Linked DNA regions of Homo sapiens. The protein of the gene in region 2 purifies or fractionates together with the protein of the main gene of each other region. This does not show direct contact. Each region holds a gene or a part of one and is shown on either strand. Other genes may lie near its edges.

Region 1 (4,147 bases), on a different chromosome or scaffold from region 2:
CAGTACAGACAAGAGACAGAGCAAGGGATGAGATCGAAACCGTTGGCCCAGGCTGAGAAGAAAGCTTCCAGCAAAGGGGATGTCGCTACTAAGAGACCACCTACACTTCGAGCAGGGGTTGACACCGTCACCAACTTGGTAGAGAGCATGAAGGGTCAGCTGGTGGTGGATCCCATTGAGCTGGTTGTCTTCCTGCCTGTGCTGTGTCCTAAGATGGGGATTCTCTACTGCACCGTCAAGACTGTGGTGTCAAATTCCACAGGAAGACCTGCACCACTGTCACCTTCACAAAGGTTAACTTTCTGGTAGACAAAGGAGCTCTGGCTAAGCTGGTGGGACAAATTACAACGACATATGAGATCTGCTGTCACTGGGGAGGCAATGCCCTGGGTCCAAAATCTGTAGCTTGCATTACCAACCTAGAAAAGGCAAAGGCTAAAGAATTTGCCACTAAACTGGGTTAAGTACACACTGTTGTGTTTTCTGTACATAAAAATAAAAATTCTCTTTCCAAGAAAAGTCTTTCCTTTTGGCTGGAACTGCCATCTTGGAGTAATTTGCCAAAATGACGAACACAAAGGAAAAGAGGACGAGGCATCTGATGTATGTTCTCCTGGCCTTATAGAAAACATGGAGTTCGAGCTGGGCACGGTGGCTCACGCCTGTAACCCTAACACTTTGGGAGGCTAAGGCGGGTGGCTCACCTGAAGTCAGGAGTTCAAGACCATCCTGGCCAACACAGTGAAACTACTAAAAATACAAAAAATTAGCTGGGCATGGTGACAGGCACCTGTAATCCCAGCTACTAGGGAGGCTGAGGCAGGAGAATCGCTTGAACCCGGGAGGCGGAGGTTGCAGTGAGCTGAGATCACACCATTGCACTCCAGGCTGGGCAACAAGAGCAAAGCTCCATCTCAAAACAAACAAACAAAACAAAACAAAAATATGGAGTTTCTCTGGCCACAGACACCAGAATCTACAATGAAGGTGATATTGAGGACTTCGTGAGAATGCATACTGTTCAAAAGGGAATGACCCACAAATGTTACATGGCAGAACTGGAAAAGTCTATGTTACCCAGCATGCTGTTGGCACTGCTGCGAACAAGGGCTAGATTCTTGCCCAAAGAATTAATGTTTCTATTGAGCATATTAAGCACTCTAAGAACCAAGATCTTTCCTGAAATGTGTGAAGGAAAATGATCAAAAAAGAAGCAAGTCAAAGAGAAAGGGTTCACCTGAAGTGCCAGCCTGTTCCATTGAGGGAAGTACACTTTGTGAGAACCAATGGAAAAGAGCCTGAGCCGCTGGAACCTATTCCCTATGGATTCATGGTATGATAGGGTAAAAATAGATAAATACAAGACCTCTGGATTGCTTAAAAAAAAAAAAAAAAAAGGGAGAGAGAGAGAATGAATTCAGCAGAGCCTTGAAGGATAAGAAGTTAGGCGTAGGAGAACCATTTTTCAATGTCTACTTCATTGTCTAGAAGTAGACAAACCTTGGGGCTGGTCACCAGGACTTCTAGCACTGGAAACAGGTAAAGCTGTCAGCCAGCATTCACACAACCCTGGCTCCACTCCCACTATCCTTGATCTGGAAACAGGTCTTAGGACCCTGGGAACTAAAGAAAAATGAGCAGGGAACTTCCACCCATGCTCTTAGAAAAGTTCTCCAGAAAACCATTTCAGGATCTACTTTTGTTATCTGAGATATTTTCCTGGACAGCTCTTTATGTCTCCCGTGGCACCTCCTTTATGAAACTTTTTCTTATCCTCCCTTGCGTTTGTGCCTCCCGTGTGTGTAGAACACATTCTTACCACTTACCTCTCTCAGAATCAGTTCATTCGGGTAGGAACAGGGCTGACTTCAAATCTAATCCCCAAACCTTACCGTGTTGCTGTAAGTGTGCACTGTGAGGCTGGAAAGTCACAAGGGCTGTAGAATGCAGTGGCTGTGGCACAGGATGGGGAGGGCTAGGTTGGCTGGGGAACGATCGGGCAGGGCTTGAATGCCAAGTTAAGGGAATCTGGTCAGTAGTTCCCAAATGAATTTCTGAATCTCTAGGGAAAAACAGTAAAATACACACTTCCCCAGCCTCACACAAGACCCGAAGGGCAGCCAGCGCCCGAGGCGATTCCGAGAATCAGACAAGTTTGGGAACCTGCTAAGCGCAAGCAAAACAAAAGGTTTCCACGCAAATGAGTGAGATGTATCAACTACGTTTTAAAATGCACTCCAGTCCGAGAGCAGACAGGAGGCCACTGCAATAATCCAGACGAGGGGCAGTGAGGCCTGAGAAATGGGAGATAATCGCCTTCATCTCGATTCTTGGCGCCCACCACGCTGTCCCGCTCGGTGGGCCTCCCTTAAGGCACGCAGCTGATCGGAACGCGCTTTCTTACCCGCCTCATGCGACCGTTTGACAGCAGGTCGGCGATCCCCTTGGCCGCGTCGTTTTTTTCGGCCACACAGAGGACTTTCCGCACGCCTCGGAGGGCCATCTCCATGGCGGCGCGGGAAAAGGCACGGTCTTCGGGCCGTCGCAGCCACCGGAGCGCGTAGCGGGCGACAGGAAAGATCATCCTCAGACCTCGCGCCCGGAGCCGCTCCCCGGCTGCCGGCGCATCCTGGGGAAGCCAGAGATGAGGCTCAAATGGCGCCCACCGAAAGGGAACCAGAGCCTCGCTTCGGTCACGTCCCCACCAGCCTGCTGGCCTTTGGAGCTTCAGTCACTGAGCCTTTCCCGTGCCGCAGCCGCCGCCTCAGCACCGAATCCAGTATCTTGGCGTGGAACTTCCGCCCGCCTTCTCCAGCTACTTCCGCCAGGCGCGCGCCCCACAGCGACCTGGAACTACAACTCCCAGACTGTCCCGCGCCCCTCGTCCAAGCACGTTCCCCTCTGCCACCTTCCCGCCGCCCCCGTCTCACTCCGCCCCTCTTTCCCCTCCTTCCCGGCAGTGGTTGGTTAATCGGACTCCTTCTTGCGGGGAGCCGCCAGACACTCCCATCCAAGGCCTCTTTCTCATGACTTTTTAATCTCCTGCTCGGAAGTCTACGAGGACGCTTCCGGGTCACGCGGCGCGGACACCAGGAGTCATGTGATGTCAAGATGGCGGCGCCGCGGTAGCAGGATCCGGGTTGTGGCGTCCTAGGAGCCGCGACGGTTTCTGCCCTCGGGCAGTGAGGGGCAGCAGCGCTTGGCTGACCCCTGCGGCGTCCCGTAGCCTCGCGTTAAGCCTTGTTCAGAGCGGGGGCTTTTGCTGTCGCAGTGGGTTCCGGAGAGTGCAGGTGATTTCGCAGCAGGTTTCTTGTGCTGGCCGCGCTCGCCGGACGAAGAAGAGAAGGGCAGTTGGGCCTGCGGCCTTGGCGTTCATGAGGCCTCAGAGAGCTCCGGAGGAGCTACAACTGTGAGGGGGCTGCTAGAGTTCTTCTCCTCGGGTGTGTGAGAAGCAGCCTAGGACCCCGGGTTCGGGGAGTCGCAAAGAAGGCCGTAAGGGCTTCACTTCCTTCTCCGGAGGCCTGCCTTCTGCGCGTCGATTAACACCGCATTCTTTCCCACTTCCTCTCAATGTTTTCTTCATATATCTGGAAATATGATCAGCGCCCCTGACGTAGTGGCCTTCACCAAAGAGGAAGAGTATGAAGAAGAGCCTTACAATGAGCCGGCCCTGCCTGAGGAGTACTCGGTGCCGCTCTTCCCCTTCGCCAGTCAGGGTGCTAACCCCTGGTCAAAACTGTCCGGGGCCAAGTTTTCGAGGGACTTCATTCTTATTTCCGAGTTCTCTGAGCAGGTGGGACCCCAACCCTTACTGACCATCCCCAATGACACCAAAGTTTTTGGCACTTTTGATCTCAATTACTTCTCCCTGCGTATCATGTCTGTGGATTACCAGGCTTCCTTCGTGGGCCATCCTCCTGGATCTGCCTACCCCAAGCTGAACTTCGTGGAGGACTCCAAGGTGGTGCTGGGAGATTCTAAGGAGGGCGCCTTTGCATACGTGCACCACCTTACCCTATACGACCTGGAGGCCCGTGGCTTCGTGAGGCCGTTTTGCATGGCTTATATCTCTGCAGACCAGCATAAAATCATGCAGCAGTTCCAGGAGCTTTCAGCCGAATTTTCCAGAGCTTCTGAGTGCTTGAAG
Region 2 (3,500 bases):
CCCCAAGGCATTGCGGGCAGAAGGTCTGTTCATCAGAATCTCAGTGATCCCTGTAAGGAGTCAGGGCAGCCACGGGAAAGCAGCTGGCTCTGCCTAATCCTGGGCTGCGGGCTGGGGACTGGAGGCAGGAGGCCTGGGATCTGGGGAGCCTCTGCCCTAGATGACCAGAGTGACTTGCCACAAGTCACACACTCAGGCAGGCCTCAATTTTCCCAACCATAAAATGGAGAGAAAAACCCTTGCTCTTTCTGCCTCAGAGAGAAAGTGGAAGGACTTGTAAACTGTGAAGCAAAATGGGGAGAGGAACAACAGTGACTACCACAGTAGCCCTTGCCTGCTTCTGCTGTTGTTAGACAGACAGACACACACACACACAAGCACACATGCACCCATGTACCTTCTTTAATTTTACAACTCCCTCCATATTCATCTTTTTTTTTTTTATTTTTGGCGGGGGAGAGTTTTGCTGTTTTTTTTTTTTTTTTAGACAGGGTCTCAACTCTGTCACCCAGGCTGGTGTACAGTGGTGTAAACATGGCTCACTGTAGCCTCAACCTCCTGGGCTCAAGCAATTCTCCTCCCTCAACCCCCAAAATAGCTGGGACTATAAGCATGCGCCATTACACCTGGCTAATTTTTGTGCTTTTTGTAGGAACGAGGTTTTGCCATCTTGCCCAGCCTGGTCTCAAACTCCTGAGCTCGAGCAATCTGCCCGCCTCGGCCTCCCAAAGTGCTGGGATTACAGGTTTGAGCCACCGCGGCCTTAATCTTTTCTTCACAGCAGACTTCTTCCTCTAGAGTTTGAGGAGTTATGATAAGGCAAATACCCTTATAACCACCACCCAAATCAAGAAATAGAACTGTGCCGGCCACCTCAGAAACCCCACCACATGCCCTGACTCAATCGTAGCTCCCTCCTTCCCCCTGAACAAGTAACTCTTTGACTTATAGTAATCACCTCTGTGTATTTCTTTATAATTTTTTTTTTTGAGACAGAGTTTCACTCTTGTTACCTTGGCTCACCACAACCTCCGCCTCCCAGGTTCAAGCGATTCTCCTGCCTCAGCCTCCGGAGTAGCTGGGATTACAGCATGTGCCACCACGCCCGGCTAATTTTGTATTTTTAGTAGAGATGAGGTTTCTCCATGTTGGTCAGGCTTGTCTCGAACTCCTGACCTCAGGTGATCCACCCACCTCGGCCTCTAAAAGTGCTGGGATTACAGGTGTGAGCCACCACACCCGGCCATTTCTTTATAATTTTATCACCCAGGTGTGCATCCTTAGGTATCATAGTTTAGACTTGCTAATTTCTAAAATTGCCGTGTATCTTTTAAATCCTGGTACAACCCCCACATGCTCCCCACAACTCTGTCTTTCCCTCAGAGATTATCTGTGGAGGAGCCTGGGGTATTTGACCTACAGGGTTTCTCAAAGCCTGGGTTTTGCTAACTGCACAATCACGGGGACAGATCAATATGCTCCTCTGTCACAATAAATTAGCAACTAAATACAGAGGCTTAGTGTTCTGTCCTGTTTGGCAAGACAGTAATCCTGGCCCTACTTGTGTAATATTCTTTCACCAGCAACAGCCAAGCTTCTTGGTAGTTTTCTATACTCATTTAGTCACTTTCTTACCTTCCATTCGCTCAAACCTTCTCCAATCTAGGTTCCAGCCCCATCACTCAGCAGACATTATTCTCATTAAAGTGATGAATATAGCCACATCACTAACCAAGGGACACGTTTCTCTCCTTGCCTCAACCTCGTGGCAGCAAAAACCTTTGCTGACATTAACACACTCCACTTGATCGTTTTCTGCTTTGGCTTCTTAGAAGAATATTTATTTGTTTATAAATAGATGATTTTCTTAGAGCAGTTTTAGGGTCACAGCAAAATGGAGTGGAAAATACAATTCAATACAGTTCACCTATACTCCCTGGCCCTACACAGGCACAGCCCCTTCCGCAATCCCCATCCCCCACCAGAGGCACGTGTTGCAACTGACGAACCTACACTGATGCACTGTCGCCACCCGGGGGCCCTAGTGTACACTGGGGTTCGCTCTTGGTGGTGTACACTCTGTGGGTTTACACAGATGCATAATGACACGTATCTGCCTTGGCTTTGGCAGGCCCCCATTCTCCTTCCTCCTACCTTTCAGGTGATGCCTCTGCACTCCTTCACTGCTTCTCTTCTGCCCAATTATTTTAAGTGCGTAAGTTCCTTAAGGCCAATCAGATTCTCTTCATTCACTCATTTGTACATTTATATATTTGCTGTGTGCTGGCCTCTACTAGACACCGTGATTCCAGAGACCAGGACAGACTCAAGGCCTGTCCTCATGGAACCTACAGCCTAGTGGGGAAGACAGACATTAAATAATTACTATTTGTGAGGAGAACTTGGAGAAAAAGGACAAACAAGTAAGGGGCCTCCAGTGGGCAGAGGGGAGCCCTAGTATAGAAGGTCAGCAATGAGTTATCAGAGGAGGCAGTGGCCTTTAAGCTGAGAGCTGACAGGAGAGTAGGAATTGGCCAGGCAAAAGATGTAAGAGTGCATGTGTGCATGTAAGTGTGCATGCATGGGTGCATATGTGAGCGTGTGCATGAGTGCCTGTGTGTGTGCATGCATGTTGGCAAGGTGCAGGGAAGGGGGCAGTCCAGGAGAGAAGCCTGTTGCAGGCAGAGGGAGTGGCAGAGAAGAGGGCCCAGGTGTGGGACTGCAGGGTGCCTTCCAGAACTGGAGGAGTTCAGGCAGAGGGAGAGCAGGATAAGCTGAGGCAGGAGGGACCTCCCTTCCACAGCTAACACACGCCTGCCTCCTGTACACCCAGGGCTCCCGTGTGTGCCCAGGAGCCCAGAGCTCTCCTGTGCACCCCAGGCCTGAATAGCCAAATGCCTACTTGATATCTCAACTGGTATGTCCTGCTCCATTGATGAGCCAATGACCTTGCTATCAACTCAGAAGTTGATCCTGTCACCTCGCTCTTACCTCACCTACAAAATGCACTCAGTCACTAAGGCCTGCTAATCCAACCTCTTAAAGAGATCTCAGGCCTCTCAGCTCACACCGCTTCTCACAGCCATTAATCTGGCATAGGCTCTTTCCTGCATCCCTCGGATCACCCACCTGGCCCTCGAGTCCTCAGTCTTGCTCCCTCCCAGCACACACACATTCGTTCCCACATTTGGGTCACAGTCATCTTTCTTACCCCAATCCGACCACGTCCCTCCCCTTCCCCCTTCTTTTCCTCAAAATAAAGTTCAACTCCTTAATACCGACCATAAGGCCCCCCCAATCTGACTCTTGCACCCACTCTGGCCCCAATTCACCCCCGCCATCTAGTCAGGGTGTGGGGAAGAGAGATGGGCTCTGGGAAGGAGCTCACACCCTTATCATCCCTTCTAGGCTGTTTCTCCTCCTACGAAAAATCAGGATGGACATTTCAGGTCTTCCCAGGGCTGAAATCCAGCAGGTGCCCAGAGGAGTGTTTCCCAATC

Evidence for each region.
Region 1: the proteins of ECHDC2 (region 2) and TOP3A purify together in Homo sapiens (affinity purification with mass spectrometry; 3 studies listed by BioGRID and IntAct, with this or other methods). This does not show direct contact.

What each region holds. Positions count from the first base shown.
Region 1 is NC_000017.11:18,312,195-18,316,341, forward strand, and holds the start of TOP3A (DNA topoisomerase 3-alpha), read right to left. Parts: upstream 2,801-4,147; 5' UTR 2,585-2,800; coding exon 2,405-2,584; intron 1-2,404. Other genes in the region: guanine nucleotide exchange protein SMCR8, read left to right, coding at 3,596-4,147. UniProt on the Homo sapiens protein: Releases the supercoiling and torsional tension of DNA introduced during the DNA replication and transcription by transiently cleaving and rejoining one strand of the DNA duplex.
Region 2 is NC_000001.11:52,911,741-52,915,240, forward strand, and holds part of ECHDC2 (enoyl-CoA hydratase domain-containing protein 2, mitochondrial), read right to left. Parts: exon of another isoform or gene 51-3,500; coding exon 1-50.